Linked DNA regions of Homo sapiens. The protein of the gene in region 1 interacts with the protein of each later gene in a pairwise test. Each region holds a gene or a part of one and is shown in the gene's direction. Other genes may lie near its edges. The genes, in order: MYPOP, PRDM14 and CIB4.

The links.
Region 2: the proteins of MYPOP (region 1) and PRDM14 interact in binary tests that used the Homo sapiens proteins (3 or more experiments, as listed by UniProt).
Region 3: the proteins of MYPOP (region 1) and CIB4 interact in binary tests that used the Homo sapiens proteins (3 or more experiments, as listed by UniProt).

What each region holds. Positions count from the first base shown.
Region 1 is NC_000019.10:45,892,607-45,896,258, reverse strand, and holds part of MYPOP (myb-related transcription factor, partner of profilin), read left to right. Parts: intron 1-626; coding exon of another isoform or gene 627-637; exon of another isoform or gene 638-1,790; intron 1,791-3,652. UniProt on the Homo sapiens protein: Transcriptional repressor; DNA-binding protein that specifically recognizes the core sequence 5'-YAAC[GT]G-3'. Dimerization with PFN1 reduces its DNA-binding capacity.
Region 2 is NC_000008.11:70,057,650-70,061,301, reverse strand, and holds part of PRDM14 (PR domain zinc finger protein 14), read left to right. Parts: intron 1-2,459; coding exon 2,460-2,662; intron 2,663-3,652. UniProt on the Homo sapiens protein: Transcription factor that has both positive and negative roles on transcription. Required for the maintenance of embryonic stem cell identity and the reacquisition of pluripotency in somatic cells.
Region 3 is NC_000002.12:26,624,240-26,627,891, reverse strand, and holds part of CIB4 (calcium and integrin-binding family member 4), read left to right. Parts: intron 1-3,652.

The sequences.
Region 1 (3,652 bases):
AGTGCAGTGGTGTGATCTTGGGTCACTGCAACCTCGGCCTCCAGGGTTCAAGCGATTCTTGTGCCTCAGCCTCCCAAGTAGCTGGGATCACAGGCGTGCACCACCACACCCGGCTAATTTTTGTATTTTGAGTAGAGACAGGATTTCACCATGTTGGCCAGGCTGGTCTCAAACTCCTGACCTCAGGTGATCCGCCTGCCTGGGCCTCTCAAAGTGCTGGGATTACCGGCTGAGCCACCGCACCCGGCCTGGATGGTTGGTTTTTTGTTTTTGTTATTTTTTTTTTCTCTATCTTCTCTCTTTCTTTGGCTGGCTGTTTTTGAGAGAAGAGCAGGGTGATCTGATTTGGCCAAGGAGCAGGAGGCCAGCTTCCCCGAGGAAGGAACATCCAAAAAAACATCCAAGCTGATGCAAGAGGCAGTGTGAGCCTGGCCCAGGGAACGACATGTGGGAAGACAGGCGGAGTTGGGGGCAAGTGCTGAGGCCCCATAGCCGTGGGAAGAGGCTGGACTTTCTCCTGTGGGTGCTGGGCACTCTGGGGCCTGGGACCCAATCAGCGCTGAGTCTCTGGAAGCCCCAGTTCTTTTCTCGTTAAAGAAAAAATGTTGTGCTGGACATTGTTCTAGGCGCCGGGTAAACAGAAGGGAGCAATACAAAGCCCTGCCTGATGGAGCTGACATCAGGAGGAGGAGACAGACAGCAGACACAGAGCCATACCGTGCCAGGTGGAGATAAGTGCTGGGAGAGGAATCAGGTAGGGTTAGGGGAGAAAAAAAGAAGGAGATGGGGCCAGCCTGAGCAACATGGCAAAACCCTGTCTCTACAAAAACAAAACAAAAATTAGCCAAGCGTGGTGGTGCACACCTGTAGTCCCAGCTATAGCTACTCAGGAGGCTGAGGTGAGAGAATCGCTTGAGCCCAGGAGGCAGAGGTTGTAGTGAGCCGAGATTGCACCACTGCACTCCAGCCTGGGCGACAGAATGAGAGTCCGTCTCAAAAAAAAGAAAAGAAGTAGGCCTGATGTGTTTGAGGATCAGCAAGGAGGCCACCGTGGCTACAGCCAGGTAACCCAAGAGGGAGGGATGGGAGCTGAGGTCAGGAAGGCAATGGGGGAAGATCGTGCAGGGCCCTAGAGGCCTCAAGGACTTTGCTTTTACCCTGAGTGAGGTGAGAGCCACAGGACGGTTTGAGCATAGAAACAATATCTGACTTGTGTTTTTTTAAACAATTATATTGCAATATAAGGCCGGGCGCAGTGCTTACACCTGTAATCCCAGCACTTTGGGAGGCTGAGGTGGGTGGATCACGAGGTCAAGAGATCGAGACCATCTGGCCAACATGGTGAAACCCCGTCTCTACTAAAAATACAAAAATTAGCTGGGCATGGTGGTGTGCACCTATAGTCCCAGCTACTCAGGAGGCTGAGGGTGGAGAATTTCTTGAACCCTGGAGGCAGAGGTTGCAGTGAGCCGAGATCGCACCACTGAGCTCCAGCCTGGGCAGCTGAATGAGACTCCATCTCAAAAAAAAAAAAGAAAAAAGAAAAAAATGTATATATATATGGCGATATAATTTCCACACTATACAATCACCTCAAAGTGTACGATTTGCTTGAGACCAGGAGTTTGAAACCAGCCTGAGGAACATAGTGAGACCTCATCTCTACAAAAAAATAAAATTATCCTGGTGTGGGGTCGCACCTCTGTGGTCCCAGAAGCTCAGGAGGCTGAGATGGGAGGATCGCTTAAGCTGGGGAGATTAAGGATGCAGTGAGCCGAGATCTCACCTTTGCACTCCAGCCTGAGCGAGAGAGCAAGACTGTGTCTCAAAAAAAGATGAAAATTAAGGCCAGGCACGGTGGCTCACGCCTATAATCCTAGCACTTTGGGAGGCCAAGGCAGGTGGATCACAAGGTCAGGAGATTGAGACCATCCTGGCTAACATGGTGAAACCCCGTCTCTACTAAAAATACAAAAAAATTAGCCGGGCGTGGTGGAGGGCACCTGTAGTCCCAGCTGCTCGGGAGGCTGAGGCAGGAGAATGGTGTGAACCCAGGAGACAGAGCTTGCAGTGAGCCGAGATCACACCACTGCACTCCAGCCTGGGCGACAGAGCGAGACTCCGTCTCAAAAAATAAAAAATAAATAAAAATTAAAAATAAAGTGTACAGGATCAGGCGCGGTGGCTCATGCCTGTAATCCCAGCACTTTGGGAGGCTGAGGTGGGCAGATCACGAGGTCAGGAGATCGAGACCATCCTGGCTAACACAGTGAAACCCCGTCTCTACTAAAAATACAAAAAATTAGCCGGGCGTGGTGGCGGGCGCCTGTAGTCCCAGCTACTCAGGAGGCTGAGGCAGGAGAATGGCGTGAACCCAGGAGGCGGAGCTTGCAGTGAGCTGAGATCGCGCCACTGCACTCCAGCCTGGGCGACAGAGTGAGACTCCCATCTCAAAAAAAAAAAAAAAAAGTAAAATAAAATACAGCGTACAATTCAATGGCTTTTAGTATATTCAGAGTTATGCAACCATCACCACGATCAATTTTAGAACATTTTCATCACTCCAGAAAGAAACCCTGCACCTCTTAGCCATCCCCAATCTCCCATCTTCCCTGTCTTCCCCCAGCCCCCGGCAGCCACTCATCTACTTTCTGTTTCTATAGATTTGCCTTTTTTTTTTTTTTTTTTTTGAGACGGAGTTTCGCTCTTGTTGCCCAGGCTGGAGTGCAATGATGCAATCTCAGCTCACTGCAACTTCTGCCTCCCGGGTTCAAGCGATTCTCCTGCCTCAGCCTCCTGAGTAGCTGGGATTACAGGCATGCACCACCATGCCCAGCTAACTTTGTATTTTTCGTAGAGACAGGATTTCTCCATGTTGGTCAGGCTGGTCTCAAACTCCCAACATCAGGTGATTTGCCCACCTCAGATCCCAAAGTGCTGGGATTACAGGCGTGAGCCACCACACCCGGCCTATTTTTATTTTTGAGACAGAGTCTCGCTCTGTTGCCCAGGCTGGAGTGCAATGGCACGATCATGGCTCACTGCAACCTCCGCCTCCCGGGTTCAAGCGATTCTCCTGTCTCAGCCTCCCCAGTAGCTGGGATTACAGGCATATGCCACCATGCCCGGCTAATTTTTTGTATTTTTAGTAGAGATGGGGTTTCACCATGTTGACCAGGCTGGTCTTGAAGTCCTGACCTCAGGTGATCCACCCGCCTCGGCCTCCCAAAGTGCTGGGATTACAGGCATGAGCCACCACATGCGGCCAAATTTGCCTATTTTGGACATTTCATATAAATGGCCCCTGTGATCTGTGGTTCTTTGTGACTAGCTTGTTTCCCGTAGCCTAACTGACTTGTATTTTGGTTGGACCCCTCAGGCTGCTGGTGGAAAAAGATACTGTCAGGGACAGGGGTGGAAGCAGAGAGCCCTCAGGGAGGCGATGACTGCAGTGGTCCTGGTGGGAGATACTGGTGGTTGGGCCAGGGTGGGGGACCAGGAAGAAAGAAGTTGTATGTATTTAATTTGAAGGCAGAGACGATAGCTTCTGTATGTGGATGGTGTCTTAGTAAACAAAACAGTGAAGGTGTTTAACCTGAGCAGCTGGGAGGATGGAGCTGCATCAGCTGAGATGGGGGTGGCTGAGGAAGGA
Region 2 (3,652 bases), on another chromosome or scaffold:
CCTGGGGTCAAACAATGAGATCTCTGTGGTGCATTCATAGTCAAAGCCACTTTATCCTCTGGGATCCAGAGTGTCCTCTGCAGGGATGCTTTTGTAGGTGGCCCCTGTTCTCTCGCCTTCCCCCAACACATAGACACCCCTGGACGTGGGACCTGCTTTGCTAGAGTCTAGCTGCACCCTCTCTAACTTCTCTCCTCCTCCCTCCTCCATTGATAAAAACAGATTTACCTCTCAGTCTTGTCTGCCATTCAGTGATAGTATCACTCACATTGGTAAGACTCGGTAAGTGTTAGAATTAAATTAGTCATCACGGTAACCCTGTGCATTAGGGAAGTCAAGATGCTTTCAACCTTACTCTATACATAAAGATTCTAGCTCTGGAATCTGCCACAAGTTTTGAGTAATGAAGTATAAACTAAGAAGGTCCCTTGAATTGTGTAGAATAGAACAGCACTGTGAGCTGCGGGTGTCCTGGTGACTGCTCTGAGCTTGTAACTCAGGCTGATCTTAAAGGCACAAAGAGAAATAGGTCGGCCTCAGTGCCTCAGTGTATTAACCTTGTAACAAGTGCCAGGCAGGAATGTGTTCAAGAGCTGCAGGGTTGCACTGCCCTTAAATGGGGCTGGTGGAATGGTCTCTTCAACAGTACATATCAAGGAACAAAAGGGAAAGAGAGCCTATAGGTTAAGATATTTAAGAGACATAGCAACCATATACAACATGTAGACTTTGTTTGAAGCCTAATTTGAATGGACTGACCAGAAAGTAATTAAACAAATATATATGTGTGTATATAAATGTGCATATATAAGTACATATATGTTTCTATAAAAGAATAAGAGTTAATCGTTTAGGTATGACAATGTGACAATGACATTATGGTTATGTTTTTTTTTTTTTTTCGAGACAAAGTGTTGCTCTGTTGCCCAGGCTGGAGTGCAGTGGCTCAATCACTGCTCATTGCAGCCTCAACTAACTTCCCCAGGCTCAGGTGATCCTCCCATCTCGGCCTCTGGGACTAAAGGCGTGTGCTATCATGCCCAGATAATTTTTATTATTTTTTTGTAGAGATGGGGTCTTACTATGTTGCCCAGGCTGGTCTCAAACTCCTGGGCTCAAGCGATCTGTCCACTTCAGCTTCCCAGAGTGTTGGGATTATAGGCGTGAGCCACTGCACCTGGCACAATTATGCTTTTTTTTTTTTTTTTGAGATGGAGTTTTGCTGTTGTTGCCCAGGCTGGAGTGCAGTGGTGCAATCTTGGCTCACTGCAACCTGCGCCTCCCAGGTTCAAGTGATTCTCCTGCCTCAGCCTCCCAAGTAGCTGGGATTACAGGCAGGCACCACCACGCCTGGCTAATTTTGTATTTTTAGTACAGACGGGATTTCACCATGTTGGCCAGGCTGGTTTTGAACCCCTGACCTCAGGTGATCCACCTGCCTCAGCTTCCCAAAGTGCTGGGATTATAGGCGTGAGCCACTTTGCCTGGTCACAATTATGCTTTTTAAAAATATGTCATCTTCTAAAGATTACGGTTAGATGTTTTTGAGTCAAAGGATGAATTAGTATTAAAATAATCTACTATGGCGAGCGGTGATATAAATGAAAACAAAATTAGTTACGAGTTGGTCAAAGCTTGGTGTTTGGCACATGAGGGTTTATTACACTATTATTTTCACTTTGGTATGTTTACATTTTTCTGTAATAAAAAGGTTTTTAAAAATTCTCTTGGCGGCCGGGCATGGTGGCTCATGCCTGTAATCCCAGCACTTTGGGAGGCCGAGGCAGGTGGATCACAAGATCAAGAGATCAAGACTGTCCTGGCCAAGATGGTGAAACCCCACCTCTACTAAAAATACAAAAATTAGCTGGGCGTGGTGGTGTGTGCCTGTAGTCCCAGCTACTTGGGAGGCTGAGGCAGGAGAATCACTTGAACCCGGGAGGTGGAGGTTGCAGTGAGCCGAGATCACACCCCTGCACTCCAGCCTGGGTGACAGAGCAAGACTCCATCTCAAAAAAAAAAAAAGAAAAGAAAAGAAAATTCTCTTGACCAGGCACAGTGGCTCACGCATGTAATCCTAGCACTTTGGGAGGCCAAGAGGGGCTGATCACCTGAGGTCAGGAGTTCTAGACCAGCCTGGCCAACATGATGAAACCCTGTTTCTACTAAAAATACAAAAATTAGCCAGGCGTGGTAGTGGGCACCTGTAATCCCAGCTACTTGGGAGGCTGAGGCAGGAGAATCGCTTGAACCTGGGAGGCAGAGGTTGCAGTGAGCCAAGATCGTGCCACTGCACTACAGACTGGGCAATACAGCAAGATTCTGTCTCAAAAAAAGAAAATTCCTCTTGAAGTAGCCAAAGAATTCTTGGCTAAAAATAAATAAATAAATAAATATCCTCTTGAAGGAACTAGGGAGGGAAGTAACTGAAGAGACATTGTGTTTGCTGTGTTTGACAGAGTCTGCAGAAGGCTACAGATGTGAAAGATGTGGGAAGGTATTTACCTACAAATATTACAGAGATAAGCACCTCAAGTACACCCCCTGTGTGGACAAGGGCGATAGGAAATTTCCCTGTTCTCTCTGCAAACGATCCTTTGAGAAGCGGGACCGGCTTCGGATCCACATTCTTCATGTTCATGAGAAGCACCGGCCTCACAAGGTGAGTATTAGGAGGACACATGACCCACCATCACGTTCTCTCTCCCTTCCCAAGCTCCTGAACACGGGGAGTTGCCTTGTAGGTGCTAGCTGCAGGGCTGTGATGCCTGACGGACACCCTCTCTGAAGGAGGAGAGGATAGTATTACGGAACAGGCAGGCGTGAATAGGCACAGCGATGCACATGTGTTAGGATGCAGGTACCCACAGAGGGAGGAACATGGAGGAAGGAGTGTCCACGGCCACCTGGACACGTGGATTATGAAAGATGCACAGAGGTGGCCTTGAGCCAAGTATAGAAGGACAAATGGGGTGTCTGATTTATACTGGTGGCAGGGTTAGTTGGGCAGGAAAGAGTCGAGCTGTTCCAGACAGGAGAGAGCCTGGCATGTGCTCCTGGGGAACTGCGCCTTGTTCCAAATCTGTGCAGGTGTGTTGACAGGTATAGGTAAGAAGGAAGTGAAGGCACGGTCCTTCCAAGGAGCGGAAGGCCTCTACAGTGGGCCGAGGATTTTGTAAGACAGAAAATCAGTAATGACATTACGGAGCCATTCCAAATACCTGGATGCTCTGCTAGGCTTGCTGCAAAAAAGTACAATATTCCCTTGGGCTTAATTAAAAGGAGGACGAGGCTTGGGCACAGATGTATTCTTGCTTGACTGTTGGCCTTGTCGGAACTACCTCAGGCAGCTACGACCTTGAGCCCATTTTCCTGTTTTGAAAACTGAGAATAAAATCATCATAAAATTGTCCTAATTTCTCCCTTCCTTCCTAAGCTTCTGGAAAAGTCATGTTTAATCACTATATTATATACTCCTATAAAATTTGAATACATTTACAGTTATCATGCATTTGTGTAATTCTAAAAGGATTTAAAAATATCAGGACGGTGAAGGTATTTCTCGCTTATTAGACTGGCAAAAGTGAAAACTATCCAGTATTCTGATAGTGAAAAGTTTGAGACTGCATGTTCATCAACACAAAATTGATTA
Region 3 (3,652 bases), on another chromosome or scaffold:
ACGGCCCCTCCTAAGTGACAGGCCTATCTGTAGGGCAGACAGAGACAGAGGAAAATGCACAAAGCTGGGTCTTGAAATAGAGGCAGGAGTGGAGAAGACAAAATAATGAGAAAGGGTGAGGGGTGGGTAGGTGGGTGGGGGTAGCTGGGAGAAGCTGGGATTCTGGAGGGGAAAGAAATAGAAACCTCAGAAAGGTGAGTGAATCGGAGACTGTGACTGTGACAGAAACAAAATGGGGAGGCGGTCTTCCTGGCACCCCCCACTTCCTGGCCTCACCCTCATACAGTCACACCCCATGTGTACACGTGCATGGGCTCCACCACATGTGGGTGGGACTTCTCTCAAACCCAGGCCATCCACTAAGGGACCCGGGGTCAGGGCCAGCCAGACAGGCAGGGCTGATGGGAAGCTTCTGCCCTCCCCTGGGTGGGTGCAGGGTCACTGGTCAGTCCCAGACTCTCTGAATGCTACGACTGGAAAGAAACTTAGAGACCACCCAGTCTAGTCACTGTCAAATGCTCCTCACCCTGATTTTATTAATGGGGAAACTGAGGTCCCAAGAGGGAAACAACTTCCAAGGGGCCACATGATGGAAGAGTCTGGACTAGTTCCTGCTCTGGGGGAGTCAGCTTGAACTCTGGCCCAGGCAGAGCCTCCTATTCTAATCAAGGCTTGGCTGAGCAGTGACCATGTGCCTGGGTCTTCCAGGTGCCACAGAGGGCCCAAGGGGAGCCGAACTGGAGGGGTGGCATAGAGGGTGTTGGTGACCCATGGCCTCAACACATCCTTCTCCAGCAATAGCCTTGTCTCAGTAGGGCCTGGAGTCTCTGTTTGGCCCCCAAAGGAGTAAGCACTGGACTAAGATCAGGAGGGCTGAGTCTGGGCCTGGAGCTATCACACTCCTTGCATGTATATCCCCCCATCTATAAACCAATATGAACACCTTGTGCTGGGTAAGGGACCCGGTGGAGGTGAGCCATTGTCCTCTGCACTATCTTTTATGCTTCCCCTGTTCCTCTCTTCCATGTCATGGGTGAGGAGCCTGTTGGGGTTAGGGGTGGGGTGCAGCAAGGCTTGAGAAGACCTGGGATGGGGCAGGTGGGGTGAGGCCTGCTCTTCCCAGCAGATAGGCTAGGTGCACAGGCCGGGGCTGGGATGCTTCACCTTTTCTGGAGTCTCAGACCCCCTCTTCCCCCCGAACTTGCTCACTGGAGAGCAACTGGGAAGTGGAGTCTTGGCCACATGATTTTAATTTTACTTTTCTGATTTAATCTTAAATGGTCATGATTTTATTCTATTATACAAATAAGAGCCAGCTCATTGTAGAAAAACTAGAGAACACAGAAAAACAAAAAAAAGATTAAAATGATATATTAGTCTACCTCAAGGGATGACTGCCACAATCATTTTGGCTTATTTCCTTCCAGACTTTTTTTCTATGCAGATATATACATGTTGATTTGGATCCCATTGATTTTTTTTTTTTTTTTTGTATGTTGCTTTTTTTTTCTACTTGGGTTTCTTTCTTGCTTTTCCATCTGGTCTCTAACAGCCAGAACCGTCTTTTGAACTGAAGACCCTGAGCCATTGCCCCACCTAGAGAACTAGGGATAGGGCACCAGGCCAGGCATGAAAGAACTAGGTTTGGATTCACTTGCTAGCCACATGATCTTCGGCAAGTGACATCACAAGAGGAATGACTGGAGTGGGGAGAAGCAAAGGGGCAAATAGACTTCAGCTAACTATACTATAAGGCTACAGTAACCAAAACAGCATGGTAAAGGTACACAAACAGACATGTAGACCAATGGAACAGAATAAAGAACCCAGAAATAAGGCCACACACCTACAACCATCTGATCTTTGACACACAACAAAAATGAGCAATGGGGAAAGAATTCCCTATTCAATAAATGATGCTGGGAGAACTGGCTAGCCATATGCAGAAAATGTGAAACCAGATGCCTTCCTTATACCTTATACAAAAATTAACTCAAGATAGATTAAAGATTTAAATGTAAAACCCCAAACCATAAAAACCCTAGAAGAAAATGTAGTCAATGCCGTTTAGGGCATATGCATGGGCAGAGATTTCATGATGAAATTGCCAAAAGCAATTGCAACAAAAGCAAAAATTGACAAATGGGATCTAATTAAACTAAAGAGCTTCTGCACAGCAAACAAAACTGTCTGTGCAAGTCCGGGTGGGAAGCAGTGGGGGGGTGGAGCCTGTTTTCCACAGGTGGGCACAGTGGCTCACGCCTGTAATCCCAGCACTTTGGGAGGCCGAAGCGGGTGGATCACCTGAGGTTGGGAGTTCGAGACCAGCCTGATTAACATGGAAAAACCCCGTCTCTACTAAAAATACAAAATTAGCCGGGCATGGTGGCACATGCCTGTAATCCCAGCTATCTGGGAGGCGGAGGCAGGAGAATCGCTTGAACCCAGAAGGCAGAGGTTGTGGTGAGCTGAGATTGCGCCATTGCACTCCAGCCTGGGCAACAAGGGCGAAACTCCATCTCAAAAAAAAAAAAAAAAAAAAGGCTGTCCTTAGGAAAGGCCTCGCTCTAGGTGGTCCCAGACATAGGTCCAGGTACAAGCACATGCAGGTTTCTCCACAATACAAGTAAACACTCCCTAACTGCCAGCGCTATGCACAGAGGGAATGCGCTTTCTGTCACTGACGGGTGTTCTAGCATCCTTCGGTCTCAAAAAGAGATTGGACCGATGATCTGGTGCCCTCCTCACTCTCTGAGTCTGTGGTTCTGGCCCTAGGACTTGGTCTTACTCTCTTTTGTGGTGTGCCATCTACCACAGTATGTCCCAGACTTACAAAAAAATTTGTGGGTACATAGTAGGTGTATATATTTATGGGGTACATGAGATGTTGTGATGCAATGCGAAATAAGCACATCGTGGAGAATGGGGCATCCATCCCCTCAAGCATTTATCCTTTGAGTTACAAATAATCCAATTACCCTCTAAGTTATTTCCAAATATACAATTATTATTGACTATAATGCCTATATAAAAAAAATATATATATATATACACCATAATACCTTGTTGTGCTATCCAATAGTAGGTCTTATTCATTTTTTCTATTTTTTTTGTGTGTACCCATTAACCATCCCTGCCTGCCCCGCCCCCCACCCTCCCACTAAACTTCCCAGCCTGGTCCCAGACTTTTTATTCAAAAACAAAATCTTTTTTTGAGGCAGGACTAGAGATGCCAACTTTCAGTTTTGCCAAGTAAGGACATTAAAAAAAATATGTCATCCACTGTCAGTGACCATCATTTTATTTTAAAGAAATATTAATTTTAAAACAAAAATGTAAGAAGCCTCGAGTGTTTTCAGACACACCCCCTTTTGTCCGTATTGTTCTCCGTTTGTCACCTGTTGTCAAGAACTTTGTCACTGGCTCATCCCTAGTGCTCAGACCAGCTTTTGGAGACCTAGAGCGAGGACTAAAGATTCCTTCTGTGTCTTTCCGATTCTGGACAAAGCAGAAGCCTTGCTTCCCAAAATGAGCAAGGAGAGGCTTGCTGGGAGGTGGGGGCCCGGCTGTGCCTGCATCCTCTGTGGCCGCAAGGACGGGAGCTGCGTGACTCACACTGCCCAGAACACGTCTCTGGAATAGGCTTTGAGAA